4 linked regions of the Homo sapiens genome follow. The protein of the gene in region 1 purifies or fractionates together with the protein of each later gene. This does not show direct contact. Each region holds a gene or a part of one and is shown on either strand. Other genes may lie near its edges.

Evidence for each region. Proteins that work in one complex are often made in the same cells at the same time.
Region 2: the proteins of TUB (region 1) and NRXN3 purify together in Homo sapiens (affinity purification with mass spectrometry; one large-scale study listed by BioGRID and IntAct). This does not show direct contact.
Region 3: the proteins of TUB (region 1) and RPF2 purify together in Homo sapiens (affinity purification with mass spectrometry; one large-scale study listed by BioGRID and IntAct). This does not show direct contact.
Region 4: the proteins of TUB (region 1) and MYEF2 purify together in Homo sapiens (affinity purification with mass spectrometry; one large-scale study listed by BioGRID and IntAct). This does not show direct contact.

What each region holds. Positions count from the first base shown.
Region 1 is NC_000011.10:8,101,711-8,105,210, forward strand, and holds part of TUB (tubby protein homolog), read left to right. Parts: 3' UTR 1-1,784; coding exon of another isoform or gene 1,785-1,807; 3' UTR 1,808-3,500. UniProt on the Homo sapiens protein: Functions in signal transduction from heterotrimeric G protein-coupled receptors. Binds to membranes containing phosphatidylinositol 4,5-bisphosphate. Can bind DNA (in vitro). May contribute to the regulation of transcription in the nucleus.
Region 2 is NC_000014.9:78,964,373-78,967,872, forward strand, and holds part of NRXN3 (neurexin 3), read left to right. Parts: intron 1-1,652; coding exon 1,653-2,034; intron 2,035-2,835; coding exon 2,836-3,026; intron 3,027-3,500. UniProt on the Homo sapiens protein: Neuronal cell surface protein that may be involved in cell recognition and cell adhesion. May mediate intracellular signaling. Functions as part of a trans-synaptic complex by binding to cerebellins and postsynaptic GRID1.
Region 3 is NC_000006.12:111,016,538-111,020,037, forward strand, and holds part of RPF2 (ribosome production factor 2 homolog), read left to right. Parts: intron 1-3,500. UniProt on the Homo sapiens protein: Involved in ribosomal large subunit assembly. May regulate the localization of the 5S RNP/5S ribonucleoprotein particle to the nucleolus.
Region 4 is NC_000015.10:48,134,132-48,137,213, reverse strand, and holds the end of MYEF2 (myelin expression factor 2), read left to right. Parts: 3' UTR 1-250; coding exon of another isoform or gene 251-531; 3' UTR 532-2,229; coding exon of another isoform or gene 2,230-2,330; 3' UTR 2,331-2,582; downstream 2,583-3,082. Other genes in the region: SLC24A5 (sodium/potassium/calcium exchanger 5), read right to left, coding at 251-531, 2,230-2,330, 2,676-2,956. UniProt on the Homo sapiens protein: Transcriptional repressor of the myelin basic protein gene (MBP). Binds to the proximal MB1 element 5'-TTGTCC-3' of the MBP promoter. Its binding to MB1 and function are inhibited by PURA.

The DNA of each region.
Region 1 (3,500 bases):
GCCTTCCGCCAGATGAAGCTTTGGCCCTCAGTGGGCTCCCTGGCCCAGCCAGCCAGGAACTGGCTCCTTTGCCTCTGCTACTGAGGCAGGGGAGTAGTGGAGAGCGGGTGGGTGGGTGTGAAGGGATGAGAATAATTCTTTCCATGCCACGAGATCAACACACACTCCCACCCTTGGGGTAGTAGTGTGTTGTAGTCGTACTTACCAAGCTGAGCAACCTCTTCAGCTGGGAAGGCCGCAAGAGGCATAGAGGGAGAGGAAGCACACTGCAGGGCTGCTGTGGCCCAGTCGTCCGCTCAGCCAAGGAGTCAGATGGCAATGGGTACTCCAGCAGGTAGGGGCACAGTGAATGTGTGTATGTATGAAGGCCACATCAACTTTATGTAGCAAAGGGCTTGGTGGCCAAGCCTGGCCCTTAAACAACTGCAGAAAGCCCTTCAACTTCAGAAGGCCTCACTCAAGCCTGAGAGAAGTTGGGAGGGTGGTGGGGACAGGTAAGTGGCAGGACCCTGTCAGGATTGCAGGTGCCTGGCTTGCTGTGGCTATGGGAATCAGCTGGTGGCTAGGTTTCTAGCGCATTTGATTTCTCCAGGTTTGCTGTGTCTCACAGAGGCAGTAGGAACCCAGCTCTCAGGGCTGTCTTGGTGGATGGGCCCTGCAAGACACAGGCTCAGCATGCAGAAGTGCATGAACAGGGTCCCTGGATCAGGGTTGTTCTGGGAGTCCTGTCAGCTTCCCCAGGAGCTCTCTGCTGAGCAGCCCAGCACAACCCCCAGGAAACACAAATGGGGTCCAGGTCACCAGCCTGACTGCACACAGCTAGGCATGCCTGGGAATCCTGCTGCCAGAGAACCATTCCCAAGCCATGGCATGCTCCTTGAAGAATCTCTCCTCTCTCTCTCTCTCTGGAAAGACCCAACTTTCTCACTGCTGTCAGCCAAGTCATGGTTGGTAACCATGTAGGTTCTTGGGAGGGAATGGGACAGGGTGAATAAAGCAGGGAATATTTTAGAACCACAAGAGATCAGCAGTGGCAGGACCCTTAGGAATCTAGTACAACCTTGTTGCTTTAGGTGAGTCACACTCAGAAAATGGGGCTTGCCCTGGGTCACCTAGCTGGTTAATGGCAGCATTCAGAACTTCAAGTTCTCTTGATTTCTTTGTTCCCACTGTCCCCCAAGAAACTAGTATCTCTGGCCTCCTGGGGGCCCATTCTGCATGCCCTCCCCACTTCCCCCGATTCAGAGACTTAGAAGCATCAGAGTTGATAAATTAGATTGAAACCATTCCAGTAGGAAATCAGGCAGTTCCCTGTTGAAAGTTGTCTGGCTTTTTGCACGTGAGTATGATCCAGGATTGGCCTGTGTCTGGCCCCTCCGCGAGGGCTACTCAGCAGTAAGCAGGCCTTAGTACGGCTGCTGCACACTTCTCGGTCTAGGTGGGAGAGAGTGCATAAAGGTTCTGGGGCTGGGCCTGAGCCTAACTCCCTCCACTACCGCTATTTCTCCTTGGATGGCACCATCCACCCTGCAGGCTTGGGAACTGTAAGCTCAAGCTTTTGCTCATTTGTCATTTACCCTGGTGGAGGCTTCTTGCCCAGATAGAGATCTGAAATTGGTGGGAAGCAAGCAGGGGTCGTACCTTGCTTTAGAGTAGATGTTTGGAAAAGCTAAGTAGAAATTTTTTAAAATAGAAGTTGTATTTTAAACGTGTTAGGCTTTATAGGTGAAGGACTTGTTTTGACTTAAGTAGAAGTAATATGCTCTCATTTCTTTGTAATCTAGATTTTCCTATGTTGAATGCTTAAAGCAAGGCATACCTGTCCTAGCAGGATCTGCCCACACCTCGGCCGTACATCTCTGTGAGAGACCCCCTCCAACGATTAGCTTTTGCAACATGGTCCAGTTTCTAGAGGGCACTAGAACTTTGTGCCAGCGCTGGCGAGATACCATGGTGCCATCCTCCTTTCTATAGTTCCAGTTTAGCCCTTCCCTGCCTTTAAGGAGAAGAGATCTTCATGGTGACATTTGAGATGATGGAAACTAGATCGTCTCTAATGTTAGGTCAAGCTATTTCTCTGGATCTATGATTTTAAGATAGAACAGGCTGGTTCTGAGTTCTGGTGAGACGGAGACCCCGGTGGCAGTGGAAAAATCAGAAGCACAAAGGAAAACTCTTGGCCTCTGCTTTCTCCTGTAGCACAAAGAGGGAGTTGGCTGGATCTTTTGGTGGAGTCAGGAAAGACAGGCTGAGCTTTCTAGCCTAAGTGTGGAGAAGGATAGCCTCAGCCACAAAACTCTGTCAGGCATTGAATGACAAGCATCAGTAGCTGAGTGCACTCCTGGTGATCCTGGTTTTCCTTGACCACTGGCCCTGGGGCCATGGGTGCATGGACTCGTAAAGCTGCTAGGGCCCCTAGAAACCACCTGGGTTCAGCCTCTCCCACAATAAGAGTTCTTGCCCTTCATACCCTCTACCTGGATGGATGGTCTTTGGGCAGGGAATTAATGACAGAATGAGCAGTCCCTAATGGTATTGGGCAGTTGGGAGTGAGTTTAGGCAGCTTCTCTGTAACCGCTTCTGGGGCCACACCCCAAAACTCTACACCCTCTGCCCCAGAACAATTCTGCAGAGTGGTGAAGTTCACTTCCCCAACTCTTCTCCAAGTCTAGCTTTCCTTTCCTTCTGGCTCCAAGGTGCTCTGTGTCCGTCTGTGTATGTGTGTGTCTGTGCGTCTGTGTGTTTATTTGGGGAAAAGGGCAATCAGCAATCAACTGAGGTTTCTTAATTGTGATTATATTCCTGAGAATGAATGAGTAGGAAAGGAATAAGGATGTTGTTATGATCGCCTGTGGATTTTGTCCATTCATCTCATGCTCTCTGAACAGAAGGTATACCTGGGAAGATACCAGCTTTTTCTCTCAGGGTTCTGAGTCAGAGGACACCATCCAAGAATGTTGTTAGCTTTTCAGTTCCCGCTCTGCATTGCCTGAAAAAACTGGTATGTTGCACGTATGCTTTTGGTTGAAATTGAACATACTCTAGTGAATGTGCCTTAAAAATCAAGACACTAGTTCAGAGGAAGCACATAATGTCCAGATCTATGGCGAACACAGGTGTTGGAAGCCAGGACTGTGATAATCAGAAGCTATAAGAGAACTTTCGGAGCCTGCCTCCTTCAGTGACAAGTAGGGCACAAAATTCTAGAAGCAGAAGGTTGTTTTTTTTTTTTTTTCTCCATTCTGAAAATAGCAGGACATTTACCTCTTAAATAAACTTAGCATTTAGAGGTAATTCTAAATTTAACAAGTGACAGGGTTGGTTTCAAAGAAAAAGGTCCATGCTTTGCTTACAATGGAGTCTGCAGTGAGGGGAGATGCTGGGATAGCCATTTCCATGGCTCTGTTATGCAAGCACAAATTTCATCTCCTAGATGGACTTCCTGGTTTTCTCTTACTGCAGTAACACTGGCCTTCCCTTCTCTAATTCCTTACCCCAGC
Region 2 (3,500 bases), on another chromosome or scaffold:
GAAGCAAGGCTTGCTCCTGTAACACCCATTCTATGGATGCATGCAGTAGAATGGACATTTCTGAAGGCAGCTTGCTCCAGCAAAGAGAAACAGGAGGTGTTAGGGGCTGAGCTAAGCATACACAGCTTCTCTTTGCAGATCATCCTTAATATTTCTGATTATGTCACTTCTTCAGGAAAGTTGTTAAAGAGGAAATAAAGAGATGCTATCAGTCTTGCTAATGGAGTTTTTTCAATGTAGAAGGTAACAAGAGAGGACAGGAAGAAAGAATTCCCCCTCTAATGCTTGGCAGTAGAACATGGTTTGTTATGTTTTAACATGATTTTTCTATATAAATGTTGAGGAAGCCAATTTCTACTCTGGCCACATTAATGATGTTTTTCTTTATTTTGTTATTAAAATTTCCAGTCTCTTTGTATTTTTTTTTCAAGCCCTCCTTATCCCCTCTGCCCTAGTCACTCACCACTTCTAGGTAAAATAGGTAATACAAGTTCTAAATAGTTCATTTGTAACAGCTGAAGATATTTCCGTTGTGAATGTCAGAAACCCAACTCAAACGCTTTAAGCATGAAAGGGAGTCTATTGCCACACAGTTTGAAAAAGCCGGGAGGTGCCTGGCTTGATCCAGAGTCTCAAAGGACAGCACAGATGATTCTCTTCATTTGGTAATTGTCTTCTGGGTTGCTAGTCCTCTGATCCCTCTGATTTTCTTATAGCCTCTAGGGACTCAAAGCTTTCTTCTTACCCCTCCAGCAGTCCTTGCTTGCAAAGAATCCTCTTTCCTAAGTGTACCAGCAAGAGCTCTGGAACTGAGTGTGGCCGGGATGGCTTGGGTTGTTGCCAGTTCTAAGGGTGGTCCCTAAATCAGCCACAAGAGCATCACTGTGAAACTTGTTAGAAATGCAGATTCTCAGGCCTCACCCCAGACTTTTGAATTCTAAACTCTGAGGGCCTAAGCCCCCCAGGTGATTCTGATACACCCTAAAGTGTAATGACCGCTTTTTAAGTCTGTAGTCCAAAGTCTGTGACAGTTAGGGGGGTAAAGTACATTGAGTGGTCTAGGCTGAGTAGCTTGATTAGGGTCAACTTTATCCAGTCCAGGTGGTTGAAAGGTCAAGAGGGGTGGGTAGCTTCCTAAAGAAAAATTACGTGTTATTATAAGATAAAGTAACAGTTGCTGGGCAGGTAAACTCAACTGATAAGTCTATAATAGAATCCTTCCCACGAGTACTAAGTGGAGAGTTATTACGAGAAAAAATACTTGGTAGTGATGCCCAAGACTTGTGTGTTGTGTCTTTACAAGGGTCAGAGCAACAAAGGCCTTTCTTCTTATAGTGTGTATTAGTGTCCAGTGATTCTCCTGAATGGAGAATATCAATAGTTTTATCCTTTAGCCTGGGTTACTCATGACCTCATATTTCCCCTTATATGATGAGCCGTGCTGAGCAGCTGCGTGACAGCATGTAATTTGGGCAATGCCTGATTGAGGCCAAGTAAGGTATCTACCATATTGAATATTTGGTTTTCTTGAACTCACCCAAGAAAGCTGAATATTCTGTGTGGAAACAGGTTACACCCAAAAAATATACTTGAGGGTGCTGTGATAAATGATGGTAACTTTTCTGTTTGTACCTCATTTACAATTTTCACAGGTACAATGGTGGGAGACCATACCCGTTTGGAGTTCCACAACATTGAAACGGGAATCATGACTGAGAAACGCTACATCTCCGTTGTCCCCTCCAGCTTTATTGGCCATCTGCAGAGCCTCATGTTTAATGGCCTTCTCTACATTGACTTGTGCAAAAATGGTGACATTGATTATTGTGAGCTGAAGGCTCGTTTTGGACTGAGGAACATCATCGCTGACCCTGTCACCTTTAAGACCAAGAGCAGCTACCTGAGCCTTGCCACTCTTCAGGCTTACACCTCCATGCACCTCTTCTTCCAGTTCAAGACCACCTCACCAGATGGCTTCATTCTCTTCAATAGTGGTGATGGCAATGACTTCATTGCAGTCGAGCTTGTCAAGGGGTAAGTAGAAGGGATCACGACTTATGTTGGACACCTTTAATCTACTGAAGCTCTACGTAAAATATGGACATAAAAATAACTTGTCTATTCTACTCCCTACCCTCCATTCCTGACACATTCTCGCATCTTCCTTGATTAAATGGATCCATAAAATTATTAGGTCTGGAAAGGAGAGAGGCTCATGATTTAATTTAAAGGTCTTCCACTAACTCAACACTAACAGACTTTTTCCTATGAAATGTAGCCCTTTAAAACTATTGAAGAAAAGCTTATTTTTGCAAAAGAGGGCTATGATTTGTATTGCATCTAATTCTTGAGTATTACTAACTACAACCACCCAATTTATACCAAAAGATGAAACATAAATATTTTAAATCCTACCATTAGCCCATATATGCAAGTTTTTAGAAGCTGCCCTTTCCTCAAGACATTTTACTACCATGTATTAGAAAATAGTCAAAACAAAAAACCAAAACAAAAACCAAAACAGATTAATGGTTGATGATGAATTTAAAAGTCACCCCCTTATGTTTTGTAGTGTACAACCTGTGCTACTTTGACTCTGGAGAGTATTAGTAGGTAGTGTTAATGAAGTGGACTCGATGAGTATGGAATTATAGTGAAGCATGATAGAATAAAATCTGACTATTCTTGTAACCTCATATCAAGATTTAAATTATTCCTGCATTATGCCAGTTTAGCATGGGGGATTTGAAGCCCACTATGTCAGTTACACACATATAGCCATTAAACCACTTCGGGGATTTTCCAATTATTGTTTTTTTTTTTTTTTCTTCCTAGGTATATACACTACGTTTTTGACCTCGGAAACGGTCCCAATGTGATCAAAGGCAACAGTGACCGCCCCCTGAATGACAACCAGTGGCACAATGTCGTCATCACTCGGGACAATAGTAACACTCATAGCCTGAAAGTGGACACCAAAGTGGTCACTCAGGTTATCAATGGTGCCAAAAATCTGGATTTGAAAGGTAAACCTTGTAAAGAAATTTAGTTTTTAATAGAGCTTTTCTTACAATAGATAGACTATTTCCAGAGGCAAACCACAGGTTCAGAGTGCCATGCATTTTTGATACATCATCCATATCCTGTTTTAACAATGTTGAATTATCCTGTAATGCAATTTTTTCCGTTTTTACTTAGACTACTCATCAAGAAATGGTTCATTTTCTCTGATAACCTCGGGAATGTCATGCTGTGGGGGCTGAGAGATGACAGGATGAGTGTCAAAGTGTGGGAAGGGCCGTAATACAGAGGAAGGAATATAGGCTTTGGAATTTCAGCTGAATCATTTAATGTCTGGTGTCATCAGTAAACTGTCTTAGCCTTGTTCAGCTTACATTTACTTTTCTTTGCAAAATGAGGATAATAATTGTTAGTTTCTGTATAGGTCGTGAGAAGTTTTGATGGCATGTCTGTATATCCCTCAGCATATTATTGGTAAC
Region 3 (3,500 bases), on another chromosome or scaffold:
AGTGAGCCATGATTGTGCCACTGCACTCCAGCCTGGGCAACAGAGTGAGGGCGCTGAAAAAACAAAAAACAAAAAACTCTTAAGCAGATTCTATGTTTATTAAAGAGTTAATGACATGCTGTAATTGTGGTTCTTTTTTTTTTTTCTTTCTTTTTTTTTTTTTTAATTGATCATTCTTGGGTGTTTCTCGCAGAGGGGGATTTGGCAGGGTCATAGGGCAATAGTGGAGGGAAGGTCAGCAGATAAACAAGTGAACAAAGGTCTCTGGTTTTCCTAGGCAGAGGACCCTGCGGCCTTCCGCAGTGTTTGTGTCCCTGGGTACTTGAGATTAGGGAGTGGTGATGACTCTTAACAAGCATGCTGCCTTCAAGCATCTGTTTAACAAAGCACATCTTGCACCGCCCTTAATCCATTTAACCCTGAGTGGACACAGCACATGTTTCAGAGAGCACCGGCTTGGGGGTAAGGTCATAGATCAACAGCATCCCAAGGCAGAAGAATTTTTCTTAGTATAGAACAAAATGGAGTCTCCTATGTCTACTTCTTTCTACACAGACACAGCAACAATCTGATTTCTCTATCTTTTCCCCACATTTCCCCCCTTTCCACTCGACAAAACCGCCATCGTCATCATGGCCCGTTCTCAATGAGCTGTTGGGTACACCTCCCAGACGGGGTGGCGGCCGGGTAGAGGGGCTCCTCACTTCCCAGAAGGGGTGGCCGGGCAGAGGTGCCCCCAACCTCCCGGACGGGGCGGCGGCTGGGCGGAGGCGCCCCCACCTCCCTCCCGGATGGGGCGGCTGGCCGGGCGGGGGCTGCCCCCCGCCTCCCTCCTGGACGGGGCGGCTGCCAGGCGGAGACGCTCCTCACTTCCCAGACGGGGCGGCTGCCGGATGGGGGGGCTCCTCACTTCTCAGACGGGGCGGCTGCCGGGCGGAGGGGCTCCTCACTTCTCAGATGGGGCGGCTGCCGGGCGGAGGGGCTCCTCACTTCTTAGACGGGGCGGCCGGGCAGAGACGCTCCTCACCTCCCAGATGGGGTCGCGGCCGGGCAGAGGCGCTCCTCACATCCCAGACGGGGCGGCAGGGCAGAGGCGCTCCCCACATCTCAGACGATGGGCGGCCGGGCAGAGACACTCCTCACTTCCTAGACGGGATGGCGGCCGGGAAGAGGCGCTCCTCACTTCCCAGACTGGGCAGCCGGGCAGAGGGGCTCCTCACATCCCAGACGATGGGCAGCCAGGCAGAGACGCTCCTCACTTCCCAGACGGGGTGGCGGCCAGGCAGAGGCTGCAATCTTGGCACTTTGGGAGGCCAAGGCAGGCGGCTGGGAGGTGGAGGTTGTAGCTAGCCGAGATCACGCCACTGCACTCCAGCCTGGGCAACATTGAGCACTGAGTGAACGAGACTCCGTCTGCAATCCCGGCACCTCTGGAGGCCGAGGCTGGCAGATCACTCGCGGTTAGGAGCTGGAGACCAGCCTGGCCAACACAGTGAAACCCCGTCCCCACCAAAAAAATACGAAAACCAGTCAGGCGTGGCGGCGCGCGCCTGCAGTCGCAGGCACTCGGCAGGCTGAGGCAGGAGAATCAGGCAGGGAGGTTGCAGTGAGCGGAGATGGCAGCAGTACAGTCCAGCTTCGGCTCGGCATCAGGGGGAGACCGGGGAGGGGGAGGGGGAGGGAGAGGGAGAGGGAGAGGGAGAGGGCAATTGTGGTTCTTGAGATAAGTGTGTGACTTCTCTTTTTTAAGGCGTTGGTACTGGCTGACAGAGCCCACAGTTTCCTAAAGAATACACTGACTCCCACAAATTGCCTTTCTCTGTACATTGAGTTTAGACTTTGCTGTACATTTTGAGCTATGGTGTGGCTGGTGTTGCAGCCTGAGAGCTGACAGCTTGGTGTTGACAGTGTCTTCTGTACAGTAGTGTTGTTTGTCCAACCATTTGTATCTAGCATTTTGTACATCGTTTTTATTTTGTTTTCTTCACAATGAAAATACATGACTGACCAGCTTTATGTCCTATGAATGTCCAAATGAAACTTAAATATTCACCTCTTAGCTGATAATTTCCATCTTGGGCTCAACTGTATTAAATCAGAGACATTTAGTTCTTTTTCTCCATATAATTAATACCACCGCTTCTGTTTTTCTGTTTTCCTCTCACTAAAAATAAATGAGGCAAAATGCAGTAAAATACCCAATGATCATAAGATGTAATTAGAGACTTTATAGTAATTTTTAGCTGGTTAAGATCGAAAGCCCCTTAAGTCTCCTGTTTGAGTTTCCATATGTGATTTGGGAGCTTCTAAGTATGTATTATACTATACAGTAGATGACTGTTATTTAGAGAACAAGAAATAAAAGATGAAAAATCACTAATATAAAAAAGTACTCAGGACGGACATGGTGGCTCATGCCTGTAATCCCAGAACTTTGGGAGGCCGAGGTGGGTGGATTGCTCGAGGCCAGGAGTTCAAGACCAGCCTGGCCAACACAGCGAAACCTGTCTCTACTAAAAATACAAAAATTAGCTGGACATGGTGGCACTGGCCTCCATGCTACTTAGGAGGCTGAGGCAGGACAATTGAGCCCAGGACGCAGAGGTTACAGAGAGTGGGCGGATCACTTGAGGAGTTCAAGACCAGCCTGGCCAACATGGAGAAACCCTGTCTCTATTAAAAAATACAAAAATTAGCTGGGTATGGTGGCGCACGCCTGTAATCCCAGCTACTTGGGAGGCTGTGGCATGAGAATTGCTTGAGCCTGGGCCACACGCCTATAATCCCGGCTACTCAGGCGGCTATGGCACAAGAATTGCTTCAGCTTGGGAGGCAGAGGTTGCAATGAGCTGAGATTGTGCCACTGCACTCCAGCCTAGGTGGCAGAGTGAGACTGTCTGAAAAAAACAAAACAAAATTAAACTTATGTTGGCTGGACACCTGTAATCCTAGCACATGGGAGGCTGAGGCGGGTGGATCACCTGAGGTCAGTAGTTCCAGACCAGCCTGGCCAACATGGCATAACACCGTCGCTACTAAAAATACAAAAATTGGTCAGGCATGGTGGTAGGCGCCTGTAATCCTAGCTACTCGGGAGGCTGAGGCTGGAGAATTGCTTGAACCCGGGAGACAGAGGTTGCAGTGAGCCGAGCACTCCAGCCTGGGCAACAAGAGTGAAACTCCATCTCAGACATAAAGTAATAAAATAAAATAAAAATTGTATAAAATTACCTTCAGGCTATGTATATAAACTGTATATGAAACATAAATGGATTTTGTGTTTAGACTTGGATCTCATCCCCAAGATATCTCATTATACGTATGCAAGTATTTCAAACTCTGAAAAAAACCAGAAATCTGGAACACCTTTCTTTTCTTTCTTTTGTTTTTTTTTTGAGACGGAGTCTCGCTATGTTGCCCAGGCTGGAGTGCAGTGACGCAATCTCAGCTCACTTCAGCCTCTGCCTCCCGGGTTCATGCCATTCTCCTGCCTCAGCCTC
Region 4 (3,082 bases), on another chromosome or scaffold:
CTGTCCCATTTGTGAACCACAGTCACACTTTATTTTTCTCTTTTTATGGTACTTAACGTTCATACTTTAGCTATTTTGTATTTCCTGTGATATTGGAAGTTCCTTAAAGGTAGGGACTTGGTCTTTATCATTTCTGAGTCTTCACAGTCTTTTTTACATAAAAAGCACACAATACTTGCTGAATTGAAATGAAATTTTAAAGTTTTTCCTTTGCGAATAGACTTAATAATGGGCAAGATTTAGTGATTACCTTCAGAAACCTGACTAAGGCCATGTAAACTTATAGAGAGCTGAGAGTAGCCAGAATCTTCATAAAATATTCCACTATCAGTTCTTGATTGCCGACGAATGAATGGTTGACCTTCATCTTCCCAGCCCATCAGTGGCTGTTGTTCACTTCTCTCCATAGCTTTGGCAAGACAGGCGCAGCAAGGACTGCATTTCTTTATAATATATTGGTTAATTTTAATGTCAAAACACAGCACCAAAACATACAATCCATATATCAAAAGCAGTAAAGCCCCTTCATACCTACAAAAGAGAAATTTGTGTTTTTAAATTAAAAGTGAAAGTCATTTTAGAGTTGATAGCTTTTGGGCAGTATCTATTGAATGATTTTCTAACAAAAGTAGCCATAGAACAATCAAACATTTCTAGATATTTTTTGTTTTGTAGATTTGTCCAGACTTGATTACAGCATTATTATGTTTATTGATAAAAGCTGGACACTTCTGTGTTGTTTTTTTTTTTTTAAAAACAAGATCAACAAACTCGTTTTTACTTGTAGATTCCTTCCAAATGATAGGTATAAAAATGCAAGGAAAATGATAATTGGAGATTTTCAAAATAAATGTAAAATTAATAAATAGTGGTGAACATTTTCTGCCTCAGCTCATTGGCATAATACATTCCCCAACATACATAATAATTATAAAATAATATAGTAACTGTTAAGTTATTTCAACTGTCCAAGTTTTCTGGTATAGGAACTTTGTGTAAAATATTACTCAGATATGGGAGGCTTAGGCTGGGATTTTTCAGTTTGTCATACAGAGCATTTTTAATGATTTGAATGTAGCTGAATTTGGCTTACAGTCACAAGAAAACAAGATGTTCTAAAATATAAAATTATACCCTTGGAACCAAGAACTGTTTCCCTGTACTCTGGCAGTTAGCTAATGCCATCACATTTGAACCTTGCATTTACCTTTTATAGCCAGTGAATCTCTGTCTGCTGTATCTTAAAGAACAGTTCTGATTTCCCTAATGGAGGAAGAATTAGCTTGGATACTCTCACAGTCACTATCCCTTACAGACAACTGCTGAGTTCTAGAAGGATTTCTATTCTACCAACACAGTGTCTTAGGGAGACGGACTAGAGGACAGGATGATTAGTTTAGAAATTATGCTTCTGGCTAGGTTTTAAGTTTCTTGATAGCAGGTATTACGCCGTGCTGCAAGGTTATGGTTCTCCAGATGGACACCATTACATTTTTTTTTTTTCATATTTTTCTGGTGTCCTCTGGAGTTATGCAATGTATATAACCTGTGTAGCTGTGTTTTACATTTCATTATCCCTTATGATATCTAGCATAGTGAGAAGGACCTAGTAGGTGCCTGCTGCTTACTAGTTGAAAAAGTTAGTATCTGTCCACTCAGTCACCACCTTTTTCATTTTCTTGGACCAGCTAGGCACAGAGAGATTGTAAGGAAAGCAAACAATTTTTAATATGAAAAGCTAAGCATTGTTATTTCTTAGAGGAAGGCTATAGTTTCTCCTGAATGAGCATCAGAAGTTTGGAGGAATTTAAAAAGACTTCTTTTACTTCCTCTACCATCCTTCTCCAGTCTTTTGTGGCCATGAACACTTCTAACCAAGGCAAGGTGAGCAGTAACCCAGCAGAAGAAAAAGTCAACTGTTGTGGCTTTAATGGACAACAGGAGTTGGGAAACTTTCTGAATAGGCAGCCAGTGGGGAGAAGGAAAAGTGGTGGTCTCCAGTGACTAGTGAGAGAAAAAAGGAGACTGTGAAGTGATTAAGAAGAAATTGCAAACTAGTGAGAAGAACTCAATCAGCAATTGTGATGAGGTTAACTCACAGACCTGTTGGAATATGGTATAGAAGTGGCAGATTAAGTGACTGAAATAACATTTCTGAAAAAAAATTACTGAACCATCAGAAATTCATAAAATCTCTAATTTTTACATAAGAATTATTTTCAAGCTTACCAGTAAACTTGGTTGTCATATATTATACCAAGAACTGCTGCTGCACTAATTGTGTACGCTGCACAGTCTCTGAATAGGGGCCAACATGATAGTGTTGAGACCTGTAATATGGTAAGTTATTATTTCCATTACATTGTAACTTCTTCAAGTACAATCCTTAGTATAATACTAAAATTGTTTATATATTTGTAGTTAAATATTGTTATCTTTTGCATATTGCTTAGAGAAAAAAATGTAAAATTGTGTTCTAACTTACACAGACTTTCATAAATCTGACCAAGAGCTATTTGTGGATTAACATTAAATTGAATACATGTTGTTTTTCTACTGATTAATAAATTTGATTGCACATATTATTAGTGCCCTGTTGTCCATCCCAGACGACGAACAGTTATCTTTAGAATTTTTTAAGACAATACATTTTGTTGAATGGTTTTGTTACATACCGTATTAGATAGCAAACCACAGGCAGCACAGATGCCAAGGAGATTATAAATTGCAGATCCAAGGATGGTGCTAATGCCAATATCTCCCTTTGTGATAAATACACCTATGTGCAAGATAGTACCAGCTAAGTTAGTGTTAACTTGAAGAAAATAAAAATCACACTGAGTAAGCAAGAAGTATAAGGAGCAATATTTACCTAGGAAAGCAGTAACTAATTCAGGAGCTGAACTGCCCGCTGCCATGAAAGTTGTGCCTGCAACATCCTGAGACAATCCAAGGGCTGAACATAAATGAAATGATTGTTATGCCTAATAAAGTGAAAGAGTATGTCTTTACAACTAAACACAATAGATACTCAAAGCTACAGCTTCACATAAAACCACTATTAAACTAGAAAAATAAAATA